Linked DNA regions of Homo sapiens: all the other regions are linked to region 1. Evidence: fine-mapped expression QTL. A gene starts in region 1. Each other region holds a variant in brackets. All regions are shown on one strand. Distances are between the middles of the regions.

The links. PIP is the estimated chance that this variant, and not a neighbour inherited with it, causes the effect. A credible set is the group of variants that fine-mapping cannot tell apart.
Region 2: its variant is the best candidate, but not a certain one, in a credible set for the expression of TPP2 in monocytes (Quach 2016, PIP 0.75).
Region 3: its variant is the best candidate, but not a certain one, in a credible set for the expression of TPP2 in skeletal muscle (FUSION, PIP 0.60).

The regions. Positions count from the first base shown.
Region 1 is chr13:102,593,307-102,601,406 of GRCh38, forward strand. TPP2 (tripeptidyl peptidase 2) reads left to right here and starts at 3,680. Exons shown (of 30, transcript NM_001330588.2): 1 at 3,680-3,897. The coding sequence starts at 3,733. LOC107984588 (a long non-coding RNA gene) reads right to left here and starts at 3,636. Exons shown (of 2, transcript XR_001749984.3): 1 at 3,142-3,636; 2 at 31-1,095. RefSeq lists enhancers at 3,114-3,273, 3,324-3,383 and silencers at 3,454-3,743, 3,904-4,193.
Region 2 is chr13:102,664,500-102,672,599 of GRCh38, forward strand. It overlaps TPP2 (tripeptidyl peptidase 2), which reads left to right. Exons shown (of 30, transcript NM_001330588.2): 27 at 296-426. Among named protein-coding and RNA genes, the nearest start is that of METTL21C, 26 kb to the right of the region's middle. The variant T/A (reference allele first, on the strand shown) is at 3,604.
Region 3 is chr13:102,699,576-102,707,675 of GRCh38, forward strand. It overlaps a transcript of METTL21C not described here. Among named protein-coding and RNA genes, the nearest start is that of METTL21C, 8.6 kb to the left of the region's middle. The variant C/T (reference allele first, on the strand shown) is at 3,235.

The sequences.
Region 1 (8,100 bases):
TGGGGCATCAAATAACGGGACAATTTGAAATACTATCACTAAAACTTTATTTAATATCAAAGTTCAATAACCAATCCTATCCATCTTTTTTTAAAATCAAGAACAATTTTTGTTAAGACCACAATTAGCAAAAAAAAGTTACAGCATTTTTGAAACATTCCACAATCTATTATGAGGAACAAGGGCTAGGGAACAAACACCAAAGCATAACAGCATATGCTCTGCTGTGTGTTATGTTAAACCACTTTTCATTTGTCTCATTAAATCCATCTTTTCTACAATTTAAGCAAAGGTTATAGAGCAAAAGATGACATTTGTCATATGAGTGATTCTTAAAATGGGAGCTTCAACGTACGTCTGAATTTTGTTCACATTACTTTCTGGGCATATTATGTAATACTTATATATCCTGGTTTCGCTTCTTAAGAATTGATGATTCAATTTTACAAGAGACACAGACATACAAATCTTATCCTTTTAACTAGTCCTGTCATTAACAGAAGCATGACTTATTTATACCAAGCATCTTTTTAAGAGCTCTATTTTCAATAAAAATTTTTTTGTCCTGTAATTTTTAATCAAAGCTTAAGACTTACTCATGTTGTTGTAATCAACTTTGTAATAACTGAAAGATAACCCAAAAGAATAAGTTTAACATTTTTCTTCCAGGAAAATTTTTAAAATTAATATATTTTTATTGCAGATGATGATACATTATCAATATGCCTTTCCATTATAAATGCAAATTACAATGAGAAAAAATTCCATATAGAATGGAAATAAAGTTTCCAGAAGAAATAGTGATATAAAATGTCTGCTTTTAAGTGTTCAGATATTTTATAAATAGTTGATGGTAGCTATCAGAGTTACACTCAACTGGGTATATTTACATGAGAAACGTGAAAGTTTCATTAAATAATGACGATATTTATACTATGCCAGAAATTACATCCTTTATAATTTTTAAAATTTATGATAGGCCGGGCGCAGTGATTCACGCTTGTAATGCCAGCACTTTGGGGGGCCGAGGCGGGTGGATCACCTGAGGTCGGGAGTTCGAGACCAGTCTGACATCAACATGGAGAAACCCCGTATCTATTTAAAAAAATACAAACATTAGCTGGGTGTGGTGGCACATGCCTGTAATCCCAGCTACTTGGGAGGCTGAGGCAGGAGAATCACTTGAACCCCGGGAGGTGGAGGTTGCAGTGAGCCGAGATCCCGCCATTGCACTCCAGCCTGGGCAAGAAGAGCAAAACTCCATCTCAAAAAAAAAAAAAAAAATTGTGACAAATTTAGACTTCATTTTACAGCTGTACAAAGGGATACATAACTTTTTTAAAAACATGTTTATGGGATATGTAAGCAAAAAAAGAAAAATCTGGCCGGGTGCAGTGGCTGATGCCTGTAATCTGAGCACCTTGGGAGGCCGAGGTGGGTGGATCCCCTAAGGTCAGGAGTTCAAGACCAGCCTGGCCAACATGGCGAAACCCCGTCTCTACTAAAAATACAAAAACTAGCCAGGTGTGGTGGCATGCACCTGTAATCCCAGCTACTCGGGAGGCTGAGGCAGGAGAACTGCTTGAACCCGGGAGGCGGAGGTTACAGTTACCCGAGATTGTGACATTGCACTCCAGCCTGGGCCACAGAGTGAGACTCTGTGTCAAAAAAGAAAAAGAAAAGGAAAGGAAAAGAAAAATCTAAAGAACATTGTTACGGCAGTCTAATAAAAAGTCTGCCACCTAGGTTTCATAATAAACTGTTCATTCCCCATTTATTCATTGGGTGATACTCTGGCAAAGTCATGCACATGGTGTGGTAGAACATACTGGGGAGAGATTGTGAGAAGACAAATCCCGTGTTTTCATCAACCTGTTTTGTAATCCATGACAGTCAGTTAACTTTGTTTCTTCATCTATAAAATGAAGTGATTGGACTATGGTTCACTTGAAACTGGGAGCCATTCTGTTCTATCACTATAAGCTCTATACTGAATGTCTTCTGCGAGTTTGTTATTCTGTTTTCGTCTGTGTTAATTTGAAATTCTTTTCTAGAGGTAATGTAAACAGTTGGGAATAAGAAGAAAAACATTCAACTTTTCTTTTTCCTCTGCACTAAAGAGAACATGCTTGTGTAAGACTTATGGACTGAATAAATGATCAAGGAATCAGCTGAAACCATTGCACAGCCATAAGAATAATTTTTGAGACTTAATGGAGGATCTCTGAAATTCTGTGGGTTGGAAACCGCATGCATAAGGCTTTCCTTTATACCAGGTATTCTTAACTTGGTGTCCATAGACAGAATCCAAGGGGTTCAAAAACTTCCGTAGAAAAAAGATACAAACCTCTTAATTTTTTTCACATCAAGTATGAATGTAGGCAAAAACCAGGGTAGTTATGCTGTTATGTCACCAATAAAAATCAGTTCATCGTAGTGCAGTTTTCACCGCTATCTCCAAATAATTATATTCTTCACTATTTTGAAGTTATGGTAGTTTATTAGCCTTGGCCCTAGCTCCTGTTATTTAATGCAAAAGAAGTACACCTGTAACTATACACACACACGTAAAGCTCCTGCTATATAACAAAATTGCCTTTAGTATTTTTGATAACTGCATTTAAACATAATTTATTTCCTGGGTAATCCTATCTATTTCATTGTATGCATTTTAAAACACTGCTTGAGAAATAGGCCTCACCAGATTGCCAAAGGGGTCTTCGGCACAATAAAAGGCTAAGATTACCCTGGCATGAGCATAGACATAAAGATCATTAGAGGACCACTATGCAGCTTGCAGCAACTGACGGCAGGCACTGTGAATCTGGAAAACTGAAAATTATGGCTCTATAATTGAGTGGACAGCCGTAAGGAGCAATCAGAAACTTCAGTGTAAGAGGAAAAAAAAAGATGTTTTTCAGAAATCCCGGAAGCTAAGGATCAGCAGAGGATAGGAGGGGCCCATTTCAGTCTCGTGCTTTGTTACTGGCTACAAAGGCGACGGAATGACCAACAACCCACTTCCTGTTGACTGAAACTATTGCCTGTCTCCACCCTATTGCTCCCCCTCACCACCTCACCCCCATCAAAGGGGCATAACAACACAGGGGAACCCAAAGTCTACACCCCTTAACCTACGACCTTCCAAAATCATGTCCGGAGCTTTCGCCGACACCGCAGACTCCTTAGCGGCTAAGCGTGAGTGCGCCGGCTCCCTTGCCTCGGGTCAGCAGCACCCCGGGGCTGGGGCTCCTGCAGCAGCCGCACCAAAAAGTTTCATCCACAACCTTAAGTTTGGAAACTATCGTTTGCCAAGCGAAGGGTTCCCATTATTCCTGGCTGGCGGTCCATCTCCTTGCCCGTCTCTCGGGGAGTGATTCGGTCCGGGACACCAGGACTCTGCTTGGAGGCCTGCTGTTGCCTAAAAACCCCAAGCGCGGGCCTCTTCAAGGCCCCAGGTTCGAGATCCGAACCCTCCAGTAATGTCCTCAGACTCCTCCCCCTTCACTGCAGCCCGGGCAATACTCGGGCCTAGCTCCTGAGAGCGGCGCCGTTGGCTTACGTAGCAGCACGTGATTGGCCACCGCTCCCTGGCAGGCCGGGATTGGTGGAAGACGGGCCGACCCCGCCCCTCGCCCCCGCCTCCGGCCCGAGGCCGCACGGGTGTCCTCGCGCTGCTAGTCCGCGCGCAGCCTGGCAGTTTGCCGCTTCCTCGTCCTCCATCCTGCGTCCATGGCCACCGCTGCGACTGAGGAGCCCTTCCCTTTTCACGGTCTCCTGCCGAAGAAGGAGACCGGAGCCGCCTCCTTCCTCTGCCGCTACCCGGAGTATGATGGGCGGGGGGTGCTCATCGCAGTCCTGGACACGGGGGTCGACCCGGGGGCTCCGGGCATGCAGGTGAGGCGGCCCCCGAGGGCCCGGGCGCGGGGGCGCGGGCGGCCGGGGACGCGGGTGGGGACACAGTCTCGGAGCCCGGCAGGCCAAAGCCCCGCTCTGCGGCCGAGTCCGGGCCGGGGTGGGCAGCACCGGGGTGGGCAGAGGTCAGAGCCAGGCGCGGGAGGGACGGGCGCCCGCCAAGGGGACTCAACGGCGCACAGTGCCAGGGTCGCTGGGCGGGCGAGGGCCCGGACCCCAGGTTGGGCCGTGGTCCCCCCAGCTCAACAAAAGCAGCGTGCCCGGCGCGGCTGCCTGGGGAAGCCTGGGTCCCCCTTTGGCCCCAGGGACTCCCCTTCCTTCTCGCTTCGGCGCTGCCAGGCCGGACCCCCCAGGCTCCTTCCCTCCACGCCGCCTTCCTCTGCCTACCCCTCGTGCCTCGGACACCGGTCCCAGCCTGACGTTTTTAAAGAGAATTTTACAGCTTTTATCATTGGGGTGGGGTGGAGACACCAGATAGGCAACTGACATGTGAGAACTTAATGTTTAGGGATCGGGAGATTTGGTTTGGGGAAGAATAGTTTGTCTTTAAGCACGAAAGCTGGGTTTCCAGAAGATAACCCAGTCCTCTTCCGGAATTGTTTCCTGTGGTAGTTTTGTGTATTCTATTTTTAAACGGTCTTCTGCAGCGTGTTTGCTTAGGGTCATTGAATCTTGTGGCTTAGTCTTCGTTTACATAAGGAGAATTCAGTTAGGTTTGGTTTTGGCGAGCTTCTCAGACCTTATGAAAATATGCGACTTTTTTTTTTTTAAACCTGAAAACATACGACGGTTTTTAAAAATTACTTAGTTTTTTGCCTTAGGCAACTTTAAAATCTGTAGATTCAAGGTATCATACCAGAAGGTAGTTTTTTTGAAAGTATGTTGTCTCTCGTTAAAAGCATTCTGTTTAAAGTCTTTAAAGTTTAACTTTTGTACTTTTAACCCTTTACTGAAATCCAGTAATAAAATTTCACCGTTATTCAAGATCCATCTCCCAGCATCCCTGACTAATCCTACTGTATGCTGATCTCTCGTTGATCAGCCCCTGGCTATCTTATCCTCCTTTCTACACTAAACACTCATCCTCCTCCCCACAATGTCCCTTCCCTTCTGGATCCTTTATCGTGCTTTCTGATTATTGAGGTAGCATTTTGGAAGTAACGAGGGGGAGTCTGGCCGAATCTGCTTAGAAACCCCTGGGAATCTTGATTCCTGGTGTGTGTTCTTCAGCACCACTCTGGAGTACAGCACATCTTTTGTGAATCAGAAGAGGATCAGGTACTGAATTCCCTCCCGGTAACTGGAGTTATATAGTTGTCGTTGTATTAATAACTTAAAGACTTAGAACAATGACAGCTATCAACTCATTTGGGGCTTTATTACAAAGTAATAATGCTTTTCATTCAGCTGTGGAGTGTGTTTACTTTTTATAGGATGAGTGGGAGGAAAACAGCTGGGATAAGTGGTTCACCGGTTCTTTTGTCAGGATAATAAGAGGGTCAGAAAAGTTTGGAGAAGTGCTGCTTGGTAGAATTTGTTGGTAGAATTTCCAGATCTGTTTCTCACATTATTCTGTTACTCTCTCTAAAGTAACAATAATTTTCACCCCACAGCCTTGTTGTGAAAATTGATTATAAGAGGACTGGCTAATTACATGTGACTTTTTTAAATGCTCAAGAAAAATATTAAACTATTTTGGCAATGATATTTATTCTTTTTTGTATATATAATTTCAACTTTTATTTTAGATTCAGAAGGTAGAAGTACAGGTTTGTTACATGGGGGTATTGCCTGATGTTAAGGTTTGGGGTGTGATTGATCCTGTCACCCAGGTAGTGAGCGTGGTACCCAGTAGGTAGTGTTTCAGTCTTATTTCCACCCCTTCCCTTTGGGATCCCCAGTATCTGTTGTTCCCGTCTTTGTGTCCATGTGTACTCAATATTTAGCTCCCACCATAAGTGAATAGAAGTTTATGCTGGATCTTTCATCACCAACTATTTGGAGGGTAAATATATGTTAGATATTTGCATGTAATAAATATTCAGATGATAAAATATTGAAATAAAATGAAAGCATAAGTCTTCTCTTTTAACAACCTTGACTCAGATATTGGCCTAAACATAGCCAGTTAAAAGAAATTGGGTACGGTGGCTTGCAAACGTGAGGATTTTTTTTTCCTGTACCTTTAACAGATTTATTTTGTAGATATATGTGTACATCATTAAGATTAGAGGATGGATAGAAAGAAAAAGGAAGGAAAGAATGAAATAGGAGGAAGATGAGGCTGAACTGGCAGTTTGGAAAGCCGGGTGGGGTCTGAATAAAGGACTAGAGGCACAAGTGAAAACGTGGAAGAACACAGTGGGTTGTCTCAGTCTTTGGTGACTTCCTTGGGCCCAATTCTTTTGTGACAGGTCTGTGGGCATGATCAAGTGGAGGATGGGTGGCATGAGAAGAGTAGTAGTTACGTAAGTGATTTCATATTTCCTCAGCAGATATTCAGGCACCTACCAGGTGCCTAAGTTTGTGTTAAATGATATAGTCTTGCAAACTGTCACTCTTGCAGAGATTGACAAGGATTATTGGGGGGATGGGGCAGGGATTGGGGCAGCATTGGCCAGTAAGAGCTGGACTGGTCAGGTTTCACAGACCAGATGGAACTTGGACTAGACCAGAATATATGTATGCAATAGCCAGGAGGTCTCCCTTCCACCAGTCTTGTTTCTCTTTGATCCATCCTTCACATTTCTAGAGTTAGATTCCTTAAAAAAAAAAAAAAACCTTGTATTATACCCTCATTTAAAACAAAGCCATTTTGGAATCTCAACTGCTTTTGTGTAAAAATTAAAAAAAAAAATTGAATGGTATATATGAGGCCATTTGCCATCCAACTCTGGCCTCCTTATGTAGCCTCAGTTCTCATCATTTCTTATGTCCATAGCCCCTTCATCCCCACCTTTCATCCTTTGCCTCCCCTTGAACATTTCATTCTTACACTCACCTAGATGTTTCAGGTCTTTTTGCCAATACATGCCTTTACATGTGGCGTTTCATCTTCCGTCAGGCTTCTACCATCCGTCATCTGTAAACTCCTGCTTCATCCTTTAAGATCCAGTCGGGTCTTGACACCATTATGTTTTGGAAAATCAACTGATTTAATTCTGCGCGCCCCCTCCCCCCACCACCTCGTATTTATGTGTGTTTGCCATTGTGTTAGGGCCTGCAGCTTCAGAGGTGAGTAAGGCCCAATCCCTCCTAAGAGTTATTTAGGCTTTTTGTCTCTTTGCTGTTATAGCAATTTGCTTAGATCCCCTTAATAGCACCTGAAATATGTATTTTAGTGTTTCTGTTTAGATAACTTTTTCCTGGTTAACTTAAAAATCTTTGAAAGCATGTATCAAAATTGTATGACATGTGCTTGTAATGTTAAATGTTTTTGTTGAATGGAAAAAATATATATGGGCATAATGAAGGAATATAATTTCCTCATAGAGGGAAAAAAAAGGTTTGAGGAGGTTACGAGTAGTTTCATAAAACTCTATTTTTACATTCACTAAAATTTTATTACCTCTCTTTCAGTTAGCTTTCCCTCATTCCCCCCAAGTTGGGTTTTGTGTTTTTACATGTTTTTGTATGCTTTCATAGATAGTGTCCTAACCTCTTTTTTTTTTTTCCCTCAAAGACAGGGTCTCACTCTGTCACCCAGGCTGGAGTACAGTGGCACAGTGGCAGGATCACCACTCATTTCAGCCTCAAACTCCTGGGTTTAAGCAAGCCTCCTGCCTCAGCCACTGCAGTAGCTGGGACCATAAGCATGTGCCACCATACCCAGCTAATTTTTTAATTTTTTTGTAGAGACAGGGTCTCACTGTGTTACCCAGACTGGCCTGACCTCTATTATTTGTTGTCCTGTTTTGTCATCATCTCTCTACTTACTTTTTCTTTCCAACCAATAGTAACCTTTACAAAAGCAAAGATTGTCTTATTTATATTAATCATTATATTCTTAGAATAAAAGTCACTGGTTAATATTTATTAAATCTTTATTTGCTTAAAAGAATATTTTCAGTACCTTTCCTGAAATTTTAAGTCAACTCATTAACTTTGTGTTGTTTATGATAGATTGCAAACTTCCCGCCATTTGTTCTGGTCCTCTCTGCAAATGTCCTACCTTTTGTTCTGGTC
Region 2 (8,100 bases), 71 kb after region 1:
AAAAAAAAACTTTACATTTTTATGAAGTTTATATTTTGCTTACTCTCACCATTGTACTCCAGCAGGGAATGTAAATAAGGTATTTTTATTATGCATCTGAGCTCAAGTTTTATAGAGATACCAGCAATTAGAAAAATCACAGTAGGAGATAGCAGGGAGCCCCTGGGCTACAAGTCAATTACATAGTTTACTCACACTGCAGTTGTAGGTCTCATGGTTGAGACAGCAGAAGTGAAATTGCTTTCGTATACTGATTGATATACCTATTTTTTATTATTTCTTTTTTCCTCTCCAGGAACGAATGAAAAGACTTAATGAAATTGTTGATGCGGCAAATGCTGTTATTTCTCATATAGATCAAACAGCCCTAGCAGTTTATATTGCAATGAAGACTGATCCCAGGCCTGATGCAGCTACTATAAAAAAGTACCTAACCAGTAAATAATCTTTCTTGCATCTCATTTCCTAGTTAACTTGTTTAAAAAGTAGGGACTAATATTATAGAGGATATTGCTTTTCTGATGTTTGTTATATCCTTATAATGGGAATTATCACTATTTGGATACTCCCCTCCTTAGAAATTTTAAAATAATTTTGTCCAATCTTTTTAAGAGTAAGCCCAAGAAAAGTAGTTTGCCTTCTCTACTGTTAAGTGCTGTCAAGGTAGAGGGATTTGAATATCTGTGATCAAGCAGTCCAACCACTTGAGGGTTTATGTGAATTGGACCATATCAGGAAGACAAAAATTAACAATCTATAAAATAATTTTTAAAATGTTTATTGTCCAGTAACATGAAAAACCTAATATTTGGTTTGTAATAATTACATGACAAACCTAATACGTGGTTTGTAGTGAAATAAATGATAATAAAATTAGGTTAAAACTATCTGGCAACTTTTATGAAACTGGTTTTATAGTATTAGGGAGAATAGGAGGAGAGAATTTATAGTTTTGCCTTTATAAAACCTAATGCTGTGTGTAAATAGAGAAGCTTCCCTGGGTTTATGAGTGGTTGGTATGGTTCCTTCCATGCAAGTGTGATTTCCGTATGTTGGTGTAATTAATGGTCCAGTGACTCTGAACCAAGCTGCCATTTGGTCACTTTCACCCTTCCATGAACTCTTAAACCATCACCTCATGGTAGCTCTCCCAGTGTCAGTTACTTGTTTATCACTTTTGTTTATTTTTGACTTACAGGATCATTAACTAGGTAGAAATATCCTGATTCTTTTGTGGTTATTATAACTAATAAACCAAAACTATTCAGGCTACCTGAAAATACTAAATTTTCCTTAAAAATTTTCTCAGTTTCAGTCAGTATTTTTTTCTACATAAAATACTTGGATTCCAAACTGCTAGAATTCTTTCCATTATATCATTTATATTGATACTATAGGATCTTATGAATCTTACAAGCAATAATTTTCAAGTGGGATAGAATATATTTAAAATTGCTTCTTTGGCCACTATTATTACCTTTTCATATTTTTCAAAAGAATAGTCTCAAAACATTGCCATTTTGTTGTTGTTGTTAATAATAACAGAAAATACAGCCACCATTTATTAAGTGCCGATTATGTATAAGGGACTATTGAGGGCATTTTAAATACATTGTTTTATTTAAATTTAGTCTTCCAAACAACATGGAAGGCAGGGGCCTTTGTATCCCCCTTTTAAGGAAGAGAAAACTGAAGTTCAGAGAGTTTAGATGACTTGGCCCAGGTGCCACTGCTAGGAAGTTGGAAAGCACATAGTCAAATCAGGATCTGCCTCCACAGCCAATGCCCTTTCTTTTCTCTGTATATTCTTCTCCCTTCTTGAGAAGGTTAACATAACTCAGTATTATCTCACAGAAAAAGGAGCATCGTCTGCCTCCCACCCATCCTCATTGTGTTCCTTTCTGTCTCAGGGTGATCATTGTTAATCTTATTGCAAGAGGAGGCTGGCCTTGGTCACTTTAAAACTGTCTTCCACAGATCACCAGTGATAACCAGTTGCTAAAAAGAATGGCCCATTTTGAGTCTTCTTTGAGCTCTCTGCAGCCCCCGACATTAACTATCCCATATACTTTCTAGCTTTTGTTATTTTTTACATTTTGTGAAAATAATATGATTTTCTCAAACTCGGGTGTTACATGAAATAACACATATGGTTTTCTCAGTTTTACCATCCACAGAGGAAACTCAATCTCAGCTTACAGTGAGCCATAAACTAATACGATATTAGTTTTGTTTTCTTATTGGTCTTTATCACTGTTTTTAATCTCTTTTTTTTTTTTTTTTTTTTTTTTTAGTTTCTACTCTTTGGAGATTACTAGACATTGACTATCATGGCTATTGAAATAAGCTGGGATAAAACTAGAAAAGAAGCCATAAAACTTTGTAAAAACGCTAAGAGTGGAGCTGCTTTAAGTTTTTAGCGACACTGGGTCAACTTGTTTATCCTTGTAATTAAAGAATTTCTATTTCTCTCCAGGCCTTTGCTTTGGCCTGACTGAAATAGACTCTGACCAGGTTGTGTTTGGACAGAAGACAGTATTCAGAGTTGAAATATTATACAAGATGCTATCAGGAAATACTTAGCATTTCTTACAGATGTCATCTATGGGCAAGTAGCAGCCAACTTAAGCATTAATTTCTCATTTCCATGCAAAATTGCTTTCTCTTAAATCAGTAACATCAAAAATTGTAAAATGCCATTTTCTAATCTTAAAAAATATTAACTTTTAGTTAATATCATGTTTTAGTTAAATTTAAACTGCACTTATTTAGGCATTAAAATACTGATTCCAATTAAGTTGCTTCCTAAAATGTAGCTATTATCTTGATGGATACCTAACTAGATTTGATTTCAAGGTCCTTATTGAGCAAATACTTCATGTAAGGCATCACTGACAAGGACTTAAAACATGAGCAAGATAGTCTCTACTCTTATGAAACTTATCATCTAATATAGAAGATGAAATTGCCAGATAGGAAATTATTAAGAGATAATGAAATACAAGTATTTTTAAATAAATATTTCAAATTGTAAAAGCCTGTAGAAAGAAAAGCTGACTTTCACCTGAGTGGAAAAAGCCTCATGTACTATAAAGGTATTCAATCTCAGCCAGTCAGTACAAAACCTAAGGAGAGGAAAGGAATACTCCAGATATGTAGAATTTAGATTACGTGATAAGAGGATGCTAAAATAGAAAGGGATCTTACAGCTAATTTAACCCAGGTCTGACAAATGCAGATTACCTGTGTCACCCCCAGGTTGCCTTCTGATTTCTGCATCATTCCAGCCCTTCTCTGGGCAGCCAGGATCCATCAGGCAGCATTTGCCGAGTCTGCCCTGCAGACTCTGGCCGAGCGACGGATGAAAGGAGTGCTCAGACACAGGTATCCAGTGAAAGAGTGGGCTAGGGGACTGCCAGCACTAAGGGCCAAAGAGAGTTAGCAGTCCCCCTGAGCCAGCGACGCTCACATTTATTTAGTAGAGATTTAATGACAAAGGCTTGGAGCAAACACAATTTGTGGGTAATAAACATTGTCGACCCCCAAGTAGAGAGCAGTCCTGCACATGAATGATCAAAGGTTGGTTTTTGGAGACAGGAGTAG[T/A]CAAATTTGTCTAGCGCAAATGATCAAAGGTTGGTTTTTGGAGACAGGAGTAAACAAATTTATCTAGATAAGTTCCTTTACATTCCCTTGTTATCTGCCTTTTGCTCCCTGGCTCCAGATAAGAGAATTTGGCTGCCTTCAGCCAGATCCTCTTTCAAAGCTTTTGCAAAACCTCCCAGCCTTCCAAGAAGGTTTGCATCTTTCCCTCTAACTTTTACCTACCACTCTGACCAATTTCCTACATCTCCCCATTTTCTGTTTTTTTGCATCAGGTTTTGTTGATTGAAGAGTACAGATGTGTGCAGCAACTGGTTTGTCTGGCGTAGTGGTTACTGCTTGTATTCCAGCTTTGCATCCTAGAATTAGTAAATAACATAAGACAAAATGAGTATAATCAGTAACATTCTTTTCCAATCAAGGAGTGACATGTAGTGTTTCTTGGCACCTCAGTCCAATGTGTGCTGTTACTAAGGAACCCCACTGAGGGTATGTTACCCCCTTCCAGCCAAGCAGTTACTTTATTGGAGGCTGGGAAGGTGGTGTCTGCCCAGGTAACAGGGCAGAAGAAAGGCAAATCTAAATGATGATCCCAATAGCGTGTAGCAGGTATGGGTTGCAGGCAGAGTGAGAGAATAAGAAGGGTTAATACCCAAAAGAGTTGCAGTGTACAACGGAAAGCATAGCAAGGAACAAATTATCTGGAGTGAATGGTGTCTATGTCCAGAGCAGGATTCATTCAGCCTTCTGAGTTTTCTTCAACATCTCCCAGGTAATGTCTGGGGTTTGTGTCGTCTGAAGAAGCTGCATCATCCAGGGCTATGGGTCCCACAGGGTCATTTTCTTCATTTCTGGTACCGGGTTGGGTCCTAGCCACGCTATGGTATGGTTTGATGCCTCGTGCTGGAATCCAAAGAGGACCTGAGGGGGTGTGAACACAAGCATGTCTTCTTCCCAGTGTTAACAATTCAGTTGAACCGCACCATACATTACTGTTTATATCTTTCCATAAAACTGCAGGTTTATGTCTTGAGAGGTTTTAGCAAAATGCTCTTCTATAGCTGATTGAAATTTATCGTTTAGATTTTAAAAAGTAAGGGTAAATAAGGCTTCTGCCAGTAGTGTTGCAGGGTCCTTACTCATATTCACTTTTTTGTTGTTTTCTGAGCATATTTTTAAGGGTGGATTGGACACGTTCTACTGTGGCCTGTCCTTGGGGGTTGTGAGGGATGCCTGTGGATTGTTGGATGTTCCACATATGACAAAATTGCTGAAATTTTGAGCTGGCATAAGCTGGACCAATATCAGTTTTAATTTTTGTGGGCCGCTCCATAAATGCAAAAGTTAAAAGAAGATGTTTAATAACATATTGAGCAGACTTTCCAGGAAGAGCATGTATGCTAATTAGGTGAGAATTGGTATCAACGGATGCATGTACATATCCTAGTTTTCCAAATTTAGGGATGTGTGTAACATCTGTTTGCCATAACTGATTAGGTTCTAGTTCTCTAGGGTTAACACCTGTTGAAGGAGGGGACATGCGTGTGAGCTGGCAATTTGGGCATTGCAGGATAATTTGTTTAGTCTTTGGGTAAGTTGAAATCGTTTAGATAAATTTGTCCAATTTTGGTGGAAACATTGATGCGAATGGGTGGCTTGGTCAAGCAGTGATGTCATAACCTGCAGGTCTGCTTGATCATTGCCATAAGCTAGGGGGCCAGGCAGTGAGCTGTGGGCCCAAATGTATGTAATAAAAATAGGATGTGTACATTGATCCACCGATTGCTGAAATCAAAGAAAAACTGCACACAGGGTGGGCTTGAGAGTGGACTTAATAAGGGCTGTTTCAAGGTTCTGCAATAAATAAACAGAGTAAGCAGAGTCACTAACCATATTGATTGGCTGAGCAGGAAAGGTCTCTAGGGCCAGTATTAAGGCTCCAACCTCAGCTTTCTTGAGTGTTAGTAAATCCAGAACAAGTGAGGGAATTGTGCAGTCTCCACCAAATAACCACTTTTCCATTTTTACCAGAGCCGTCAATAAAAAGCATTAAAGAATTAGGTATTGTGGGTGGGGGGGTGTGGCGGTGAACCACTTTTGTAGGCATAACTACAGGAGTACTAGATAATAACTGAAGTAGTTTATTGGCAGGAAGGGCATGTTCTATATGGCCTTTGTAATCAGAGAGTGCTATTTGCAGGTCTAGAGATAAGGGCAAGACTGCTTTGAATTGCTTTTTACTTAAAGGACTTCCGATGACATCACGGTCATAACCTAGCAACTGATTGCATCATCTGCGGCCTAAATAGATGGTTTTACTAACTAGCTGGGTACAGGGAGATAGAGTTTTAGTTCTGGTATGTGAGCAAAAAACTCATTTTAGGAAGCATAGCCCTGGGGACATCTGTCCTATTAATCCTGTTGGGGAATGCTTAGTAGGAAAAACAAACAATTGAACTGAATATTGAATATCGTGGGTCTGTGCAATCCTGTTGCCTCTGAAAAATAGCATGCTCTATTTCCTCAATTTCCCTTTTTGCTGCAGGAGTTAAATACCTGGGAGAGTCTAGGGCTGTATTGCCCTTTAGGATAGAAACAGGTTTTGTAATGTATCAGTTATGCCCAAGGTGGGGTGAAGCCAGTTAATATCTCCTAGTAATTTCTGATAATCATTTAATGTGTGTAAGTTGCTAGTATTTAACTTTTTAAGGTCTTACTGACCGGTAAGTTAGAATGTATCCACGATATTTCTAAGGAGAAGACAATTGTACTTTTTCAGGTGCTATGATTAAACCTCTTAACTGTGTATTCTTTACGACAGAGGCATATAGACTTACAAGTCCTGGCTCCGTTGGAGCTGCTAGTAAAATATCATCCATAAAATGAATAATCTTGCAATTAGGAAAGTCTTTTCTAATGGGGAGCAAAGCCTGATTTACATGATACTGACACAGTATTCCTTGAGGAAGTACTTTCCAATGAAATTGGCGAGCTGGCCTTTATTGATAACTGGTATTTTAAACACAAATTTTTCTCTGTCCTGTTCTGCAAGGGGAATAGTATAAAAGCAGTCGTTTAAGTCAATAAGACTATAGGTCAAACTACAGGAATTGCCGCTGGGGAAGGGAGGCCCTGTTGTAGGGGCCTCATAGGTTGCAAATTAGCATTGATAGCCCGTAAGTCATGCAAAAGTCTCCATTTGCCAGACTTTTTGGGAATGAGGAAAATGGGCAAATTCCAAGGGCTGTTTGACAGTTGTATATGGCTGGCTTTTAATTGTTCCTCAGCTAATTCATGGGCTCTTTGTAATTTCTCTCCCTTTAAAGGTCACTGTTCTACCTAAATAAGATTTTGAGAGAGCCTCATCAGGGGTAGGGGAGAAACAACAGTGGCCATTATTAGAAAGAGATCTGCAGAGTGACCTCAACCCTCTTGTAAATGGGCTAGCGGCTCCGTTTTCTTTAATGCTTTTCCTTATCTCTTTATAAGCGTTAAAAGTAACGGGTTCATACACCTGATTGTGTTGTCAATTTTGCGTTACCAGGCAGGCCAAGAGCTCCCCTTCTAATGCCGCTTGCCTAAGACAGGGTCCCATAGCTGTAGCATATTCCTTGTCTTTTCTCCAATTTATTGGAGGACGGGGCTCAGGCAAAACCTCCGTTTCCTCTTTGTTATCTTTGCCCGGTAACAGCGGGGCTGAGGGAGAAGGGGGAGGAACCATGGGTTATGGGAAACAACAGTTTGCATTAGGTCCCTTAATTGAGCCTGCGAAACCGAGCCTCCACTAGCTTTAAGCAGCTGTTTCATTACTTTTATATACTGTTGCTGTTGAGCTGATAACTGTTGTCCCATGATGAAACCCTAGCCTGAACAATTCCCTCGAACTTGGAAATCCCAAGCGGGCACCAGTGACTTACTGACTGCGCAGTCTCTTCACCTTCATTTTCGAGGGTTCCATTGTGATCCATTGCAGCGTTCCTCTCATGGGGCACCACCTGCCAAGTCTGTCCCTCAGACTATGGCCGAGTGACAGATGAAAGGAAAGGAGTACTCAGACACAGGTATCCAGTGAAACAGCAGGCTAGGGACTGCCGGCACTAGGGGCCGAAGAGAGTTAGCAGTCCCCCTAAGCCAGTGATGCTCGCATTTATTTAGTACAGAATTAATGACAAAAGCTTGGAGCAAACACAATTTGTGGGTAACAAACATTGTCGACCCCCCAAGTAGAAAGCAGTCCTGCTTGTGAATGATCAGAGGTTGGGTTTTGGGGACAGGAGGAAACCAATTTATCTAGATAAGTTTCTTTACATTCCATTGTTATCTGCCGTTTGCTCTCAGGCTCCGGATAAGAGAATTTGACTGCCTTCAGCCAAATCCTCTTTCGAAGCTTTTGCAAAACCTCGCGGCCTTCCAAGAAGGTTTGCATCTTTCCCTCTAACTTTTACCCACCACCCTGACCAATCTACAAGTATCAGCCTGGGTGTGGAAACCTGCCTTGTC
Region 3 (8,100 bases), 110 kb after region 1:
AGTGGGAATTCCCTCCCAGAGAAGTGAGGGTTTCATTGGAGACACAGACCTTCTTCAAGAACCCTGGAACCACCGACATTCAATGTGTGTGATTTCCAGTGAGTAATGGAGAAAAGGTCAAAGTGAAATCATGCAATTTCATAACTTCTGGTCCCTCAATTAGCTGGTAACACAGTGGCCCAAATGTCAGAATCCTGTCTGTCAAATGGTCCAGGGCTGCTGCAATACCCCCCCGACCCAGCCCTGCACTGGCCAGACTTCTGGGGGAGTCCCCTGAGAGCAGCCGCTGTGACTGCCAGCTGCTTCTATATGGGATGCAAAGACTGAGGCCACTTAGAACACCTGTGCTTCAGGATTTTAAGACAGGATTCTTCCTGCTTTGGATTTGGCTCTGGTAACAATTAAATCCTATACCCACTCAGGTACAGTGTCAAATCTCCACCTGCAGAGAAAGGAATTTTGTAAACTAAAATTTGTCAGACTTGCGAACATGGAAAATATTACTTCTGTTTCATCTTAGATGACCAACATTACCAGTGAAGAAGGAAATAAAGCATAGCAGTAAAATAATCCAATAGGTTTGGAAACAGCAGTGAAGTTATAGTCTTTTTATTTTAAAAATAGCACATGCCTGTCCCTAAGCATTCGAGCCCCAGGCTTCACTGCAGGGGATGGCCTGGCTGTCCATAAATCACCTGCCTTGTAAAGTGGCTCTGATCAAAGGCCAGTGTGTTGCCTTGATAGACTTATATGCACTTTGGAGAATAGACATACTTAGTTGTTCGCTTCTATTTTTTATTTTCTTTCCCCAATCCAGTCCTTAAAACAGATTTCCCCTCAAAGAAATTTTATTGTAATTTTAGAAAAATCTCCAACTGCAACTATGTGTAAATCACAACGGGTAACTGCCAGGTTTCATGTTATCAAAATAGCCAAGAATGCTTTGCAGCTGAGCTATAAGCATGTGATATTAATTACACGGAGGAACGCTGTGCTTGGGAAACAAGTTTGGATGAGAAAGTCTGACACTGAAAATGTGCTTGAAATAAGGGATACTCTGGCAACGACATTTATTCTATTTTCCACTTTAATAAATGATACCTTTCTGCAGCTCACTTTAATCCTCAGATAAATGAAGTGAAATAAATGTATCAGTGTGGAAACACCATATCTTCACAGTGATTCAGCTTTGAAGCTGAGGAGGGGCAAGGATGCCTCGGTTCCTGTTTTACTGTGAGGCCTGGGAAGCAGCAGGAGAGGCTGCCCCATGACTCTGACACCCTACGACTCCCAGCCAGGAGCAGATGCCTCCAACGCTGTCCGTTCTTTCCATAGCGCCGTCCGCTGCTTGGACATGACACTTTTGAGAGGGGACTTAGTTGTCACTAATCATGCTCCGATTTTAGCAACAGCAGTTGACCACTGTTCAGAAAGATCATTTTTTCCCAACAGATTTCTATTAGGAAAGAATGTGTTTACCTGATGGAACTATTCTGGGATGTGCCACAACGCGGAATTCCTTTCATTCCTTCCCCTGTTCTAGGGGAAGGAATGGACTCCATTGGAGAGACGTTCTCCCATGAGGCCATGCTGTCAAGGTTTGGGGGGAAATACTCTGAATTATTTAAATATCTATCCAGGTGAAAAGCAACAGAGAGCCTGTTCCTTGGAAGCTGAGCCCTCCCCCTTTCCAAATAAGTGGCCTAGATGCGCCTCTTCAGCTCTGGGGTTCTGTTTCCTTCGTCTCTGAGAGACATAGCACCTTTCACATACCAACTCCACCAGGTTCTGGAAGGAAATGCCTCTGGGAACTTCTCCAATCTGCTTCTACCCCATTCTCTAGTAAAAAGCAAAGTATTTGGGTGGAGAAATAATGAAGCCATTCAAGGAAGCTGCCTCCATAGCTGCACCTTCTCACGGACAACCACTGCCCCTTGCGTGCAAATCTTATATGACCAAGACAAACGTTTAGGGGACAAACCACTGAGATGCTGGAGGTTTGTTATCACACATACTTCTAGTCTAGCCTGATTGTGTGTGTGTGTGTGTATGTGCGTGTGTGTGCATGCATGTGTGGCTGTGTGCATACTCTTGTCAAATGATTATTCTACGAGCATGAAGAAAAGTACAAGGCACATGCTGCAATATTAGTGGGAGCTGATAAAAGGGGAATTTGTGTGTAATTCCTCCCTTTAACAGACTAAAGAAGAAAAACTATATGATCATCTTGAAAGATATATAAAAAAGTTTGGTACAAGTCAACATCATTCATGGTCTTTTAAAACCAACATAAATATTAGGGGACTTCGGCAGGGCCCAGTGGCTCATGCTATGATTCCAGCACTTTGGGAGGCTGAGGCGGGCAAATCACTTGAGATCAGGAGTTTGAGACCAGCCTAAACAACATGGTGAAACTCGTCTCTACTAACAATACAAAAATTAGTCTGGTGTGGTGGCGGGTGCCTGTAGTCCCAGCTCCTCTGGAGGCTGAGGCTGGAGAATCACTTGAACCTGGGAAGTGGAGGTTGTAGTGAGCTGAGATCGTGCCCTTGCATTCCAGTCTAGGTGACAGAGCAAGACTCTGCCTCAAAAAAAAAAAGTGTGTGTGTATATATATACATATATATATATGTAGAGAGAGAGAGAGAGAGACAGAAAGAGAGAGAGAGACTTCATAAACCTGACAACATGTGTCCACTGAAAGCCCACATTAAATATATTCATTATTTATACATAATACACACATTAAATGGAGGAAAATTACAAAGACAGGAAAAAGACAACAATATCCACTGTCACTGTTCCTATTTAGCATTGTGTAGAAGTCTGGACAGTATGATAAAAGCAAGGAAATGAAATAAGAGCTGTAACAATTGGAAAGGAATAAACGAAGTTTCATGTTTGTAGATGACATGATTTTCCATATAGAATATGCAATAAATTCTATAGACAAACTATTTGGAACTAATGAAGGAGTTTATCAACTGCGTGTAAGATCCTGTACAAAAACAGGATTTTTTTTTTTTTTTGAGACGGAGTCTCGCTCTTGTTGCCCAGGCTGGAGTGCAATGGCGCAATCTCCACTCACTGCAGCAACCTCCGCTTCCTGGGTTCAAGTGATTCTCCTGCCTCAGCCTCCCAAGTAGCTGGGATTACAGGCATGTGCCAACATGCCAGGCTAATTTTTGTATTTTTAGTAGAGACAGGGTTTCACCATGTTAGCCAGCCTGGCCT[C/T]GAACTCCTGACCTCAGGTGATCCACCCACCTCGGCCTCCCAAAGTGCTAGGATTACAGCCGTGAGCCACTGCAACCAACCCCAAAAACAGCATTCTTATATACGAACAACAAAAATTTAGAAAGGGTAATTTTTAAAATATGCCATTTGCTATATAACAATAATTCCAAAGTACCATGGAATAAAATATATTGAAAGATGTTACATGAAACTGTCTTTTTCTCAAGATCTTTCCCTGTAATTGATGGAGAGACAGCTTCAAATAAATACTCTCATTGCAGTGGGATAGAGGTAACATGAGCTATCATAAACCACCTGGTTATGACATTTACCAATGACACCTTTCTTTCTATAGCTGATGACTAGATCTTCAGCAAAATAAATCAGAAGCTTTTAGAGCTTCACGTGCTGCCCTTCTCCTTTCCCCTCCCTGCTCTCTTCTGCTCCTTCCTCTCCTTTCCTAGAGCTTAGTCAATGGGCAGCTGGAACTTCTAGCCCTGAGGGTTCTAGGTGCCCCGTAGCCAGGCCTGCAGGCCAGAAAACATCAAATCTCAAGGTGCTGCCACAGTTAATTCATTGGTGTTCTTTTTCTCTCTCTGTCTCCAGCTCTGTTTGCTTTTTGTTGTCTTTCATTACTCAGTTAAAGTTAACTGCCAGTTTCATTTAGTTTTGTCAAAATAAATGGAAAGAAAACCCTGAAGCAGGAGATGAATGTAAACTGGGAAAATCTTGCAAAATCGCAAAGATAGTTCTTGGCGCTTCTGTTAAAGGAAACATTATTCAGCGACGCTCGTTACAGCACAGTGAAGCAGATGTTATTCAGGATCATCAGGGTTGGTGGAGGAACCACGGCAGTGAGGTTTTGTGGTGGGGGAGATGGGGCTTGTGAAAATATATAATTCAAAATCTAAGCTGTTGGAACTTTAAATTATTTTGACCCTTAAAGGAATGTGATTATGGGGCCTGAGTCAGGCAAGCAGGCAGACATAACCCAGGCAACTGAAACCTGTGTTTCTCTGATTAGAGATTAAACTTCTTCCTTCCCTACATTGTTCTATTAAATGTAAATGACTTAAGGGCCTCAGGGAAGACCTCTTCCCTATTCACTGTGGATCTTCATTATAGATTAACTTTCTCCCTACCTTTCTCACACAAAGACTTTATGGCTATCACATTGTCTTAAGATGCAATACTAAATATACTGTTTTAAATTGGAAAGAAAATGAAAACAAGCAGCAAACAAACTGTCACCATTTAAATTGCCGTAACTCATAAACCAGCTTTGTATAGAAAATGTTACAATCCAACTAAACTTCTCTGTTTTCTGCCTATATAAGCAAAAGCTTAATTTTTAACGTCAGAGCGCTCACCTCATTTCTCTGGAGTCTGTGTTTCCCAGATGGATATTCTCAGCTTTTCAAAGCTTAAATAACTTCTTTCAAGCTAGGTTCTAATTCTTTCGATTATTTCAAGTTGACAGGGTCAAGTTCTACCACAGCAGGGGCAAGTAAGAACTTATAGTCAAGGAGCAGGGAGGGGGTCAGTGGATAGAAAATTACTATGAGGTAACATCTGGGTAAGGAGGATTCTGGCTAAACCGACCTAACAGGATTCTTGCTGAAGACAGGTCGGGGTATGAGACATCACCTAGGGGATGGTGGAGGATGAGGAATCTTACCCTGAAGATGAGGAAGATGGAAGATGATCAGATATCAAGGGTTCTGGCTAAACTGACTTAGCAAGCTTCTTGCTAAAACTAGATTTCACAAGGAAGTGCACAGCTAGATCAAGAAGTGGCATGAGGAACCTGGGTCATGCAAGAATTTTTGTCCCTTCCAGAGACAGAGGGCACTGAAATAGATACACTTCTCCCTGAGACAGAGAAAGGTAACCTTCTAAAAGCTCTGGAATGAAAGATGACATTTACAGCTTCTTATCTCTTAGATTTCAAATGCTATTGTCAACTGTAATACAAAAAAAAAAAAAAAAATGGTCTCTCTCTGTCTTCTCTCTTTTTAACAGGTTGGGATTTTGCTTGCGCTGTTGCCCAGCCTGGTTTGCAGTGGCGCAATCATGGCTCATTGCAGCCTTGATCTCCTGGGCTGAAATGATTCTTCCGCCTCAACCTCCCAAGTCTTTGGGATTATAGATGTGACTACTGCACCTGACTAAAAATTGGTCTCTTTATTACATTTTTCCTTTTTTTTTAAAAAAAAGAATGATGGTCTCTTTTTAATTGGTATAATGAATACAATCCACTGGCCAAAGAAGAAAGAAATAAAAGCATGTGGATATATATGTGCATGTGGTGTGTGTGTGTGTGTGTGTGTGTGTGTGTGTGTACTGTCAATAGACTAGTAATGTCACCTGATAGGTGTACTGCTGCTTTTCAGTTTAAAAACCCCATCTATAAACACCATCTCATTTGATGCCCATGGCAATTGTGTAGGATCCATAGAAATGGCATAATGAATACTGGGGCACAGAAAGTGGAGGAGAGGTCCCTATTAGTCATCAAGGGCAGTGAGAAGGAAAACAATGAGTCAAATAAAAACAAACCAGCCATGAAAGAAAACATTGATATCCTGGACTTCATTAAAGCTTAAACTTCTGCTCTGCAAAAGACACCACCAAGAGAATAAGACACATCACAGACTGGGAGAATATATTTGCAAAAGACATATCTGATAAAGGATTTTTATCCAAAATATGCAAAAAAAACCTCTTAAAACCCAACGATAAGCAAATGAATAACTCAATCAAAAATGGACAAAAGATCTGAACAGAAACCTCCCCAAACAAGATACACAGATGGCAAATAAGCAGATGAAAAGATGCTCAACATCATATGTCATCAGGAAAATGCAAATTAAAACAAGACACCACTATATACCTATTAGAATGGCCAAAAGCCAGAACACTGACAATACCAAATGCTGGTGAGGATACAAAGCAATAGGAAGTCTCTTTCATTGCTGGTGAGAATGCAAAAATGGTTATAGCAACTTTGGAAGACAGTTTGGCGATTTCTTCTTTTTTTTTTTTTTTGAGACAGAGTTTTGCTCTTGTTGCCCAGGCTGGAGTGCAATGGTGTGATCTCAACTCACTGCAACCTCCACCTCCCGGGTTCAAGCGATTCTCCTGTCTCAGCCTCCTGAGTAGCTGGGATTACAGGTGCCCACCACCACACCTGGCTAATTTTTGGTGTTTTTAGTAGAGACGGGGTTTCACCATGTTGGCCAGGATGGTCTCAATCTCCTGACCTTGTGATCCACCCTCCTCGGCCTCCCAAAGTGCTGGGATTACAGGCGAGAGCCACTGCGCCCGACCCAGCTCAGTGGTTTCTTACCAAACTAAATAAACGTACTCTTATTATACAATCCAGCAAACAAGGTTTTTGATACTTACCTAAATGAGCTGAAAACTTATGGAACCCTAAGTTTATGTCCACAAAAACCCTGCACATGGATATTTATAGTAACTTTATTTTAAAATTTTTTTTATTTTACTTTAAGTTCCAGGATACATGTGCAGAATGTGCATGTTTGTTACCTAGATATATATGTGCCATGGTGGTTTGCTGCACCCATCAACCAGTCATCTAGGTTTTAAACCCCACATGCATTAGGTATTTGTCCTGGTCTCCCTAGTCCCCCACCCCTGACAGGCCCTGGTGTGTATTGTTTGCCTCCCCGTGTCCATGTGTCCTCATTGTTCAGCTCCCACTTATGAGTGAGAACAGGCAGTGTTTGGTTTTCTGTTCCTGTGTTAGTTTGCTTAGAATGATGGTTTCCAGCTTCATCCATGTTCCCTGAAAAGAACATGATCTCATCTCATTCCTTTTATGGCTGCATAGTATTCTATGGTGTATACGTGCCACATTTTCTTTATCCAGTCTATCACTGATGGGCATTTGGGTTGGTTCCAAAGCAACTTTATTTGTAATTGCCAAAACTTCGAAGAAACCCTGATGTCTTTCAATAGGTGAATGGATAAGTAAACTGTAGAACATCCAGGCAATGGATTATTATTCAGCACTAAAAAGAAATGACCAAGCCATGGAGAGACATGGAGGAATCTTAAATACATATTACTAAGTGAAAAAAGCTAGTCTGGAAAGGCTGCATGCTGTATGATTCCAACTATATGGCACTCTGGGGAGTGCAAAACAATGGAGACAGTAAAAGGATCAGTGGTTTCCAGGAGGTGGGGTTGAGGGGGATGAATAGGTAGAGCCCAGAGGACTTTGAGGGTGGTGTAACTACTCCATATGAGAGGATAATGGTGAGTACATGTCATACATTTGTCTTAATGTGCATTAAGAGTGAACCCTAATGTAAACTATAGACTTTGGGTGATAAGTGTCCATGTAGGTTGATCAATTGTGACAAATGTACCGCTCTGGTGTGAGATACTGATAGAGGGGGAGGCTGGGGAGAGATGAGTGGCATATGGGGTGTATGGGAATTCTCTGTGTTTTCTGCTTAATTTTGCTGTGAGCCTAAAACTACTCTAAAGACGTCTTTTAAATAACTGCACACATAATAAAAGTAAATAGCAACGATATTCAAGATTCAACGTTTTAGTTAAGAGACTTTATTTGCAATAACAGGTTAGCTTCTGTTTTAGTTCTCCCAGAACAAAATTCCATAAGTCAATATTTTACTAATCCTTTCTCACAATGTTAATAGAAAACCCTGAGTGGAAATCAGAATTCAATCGTCAAGTCTGTGCAAGTGGAAACCCTGAATTGCAGGGTAGCTTAAGTGCTTTACACACATTGAAGATCAGCTGATTTAGTTACTAGTCTTGGATCTCTTCCCAGCACAGCAATAACGATGGCATTATCAGTGGCTTCAATATGGG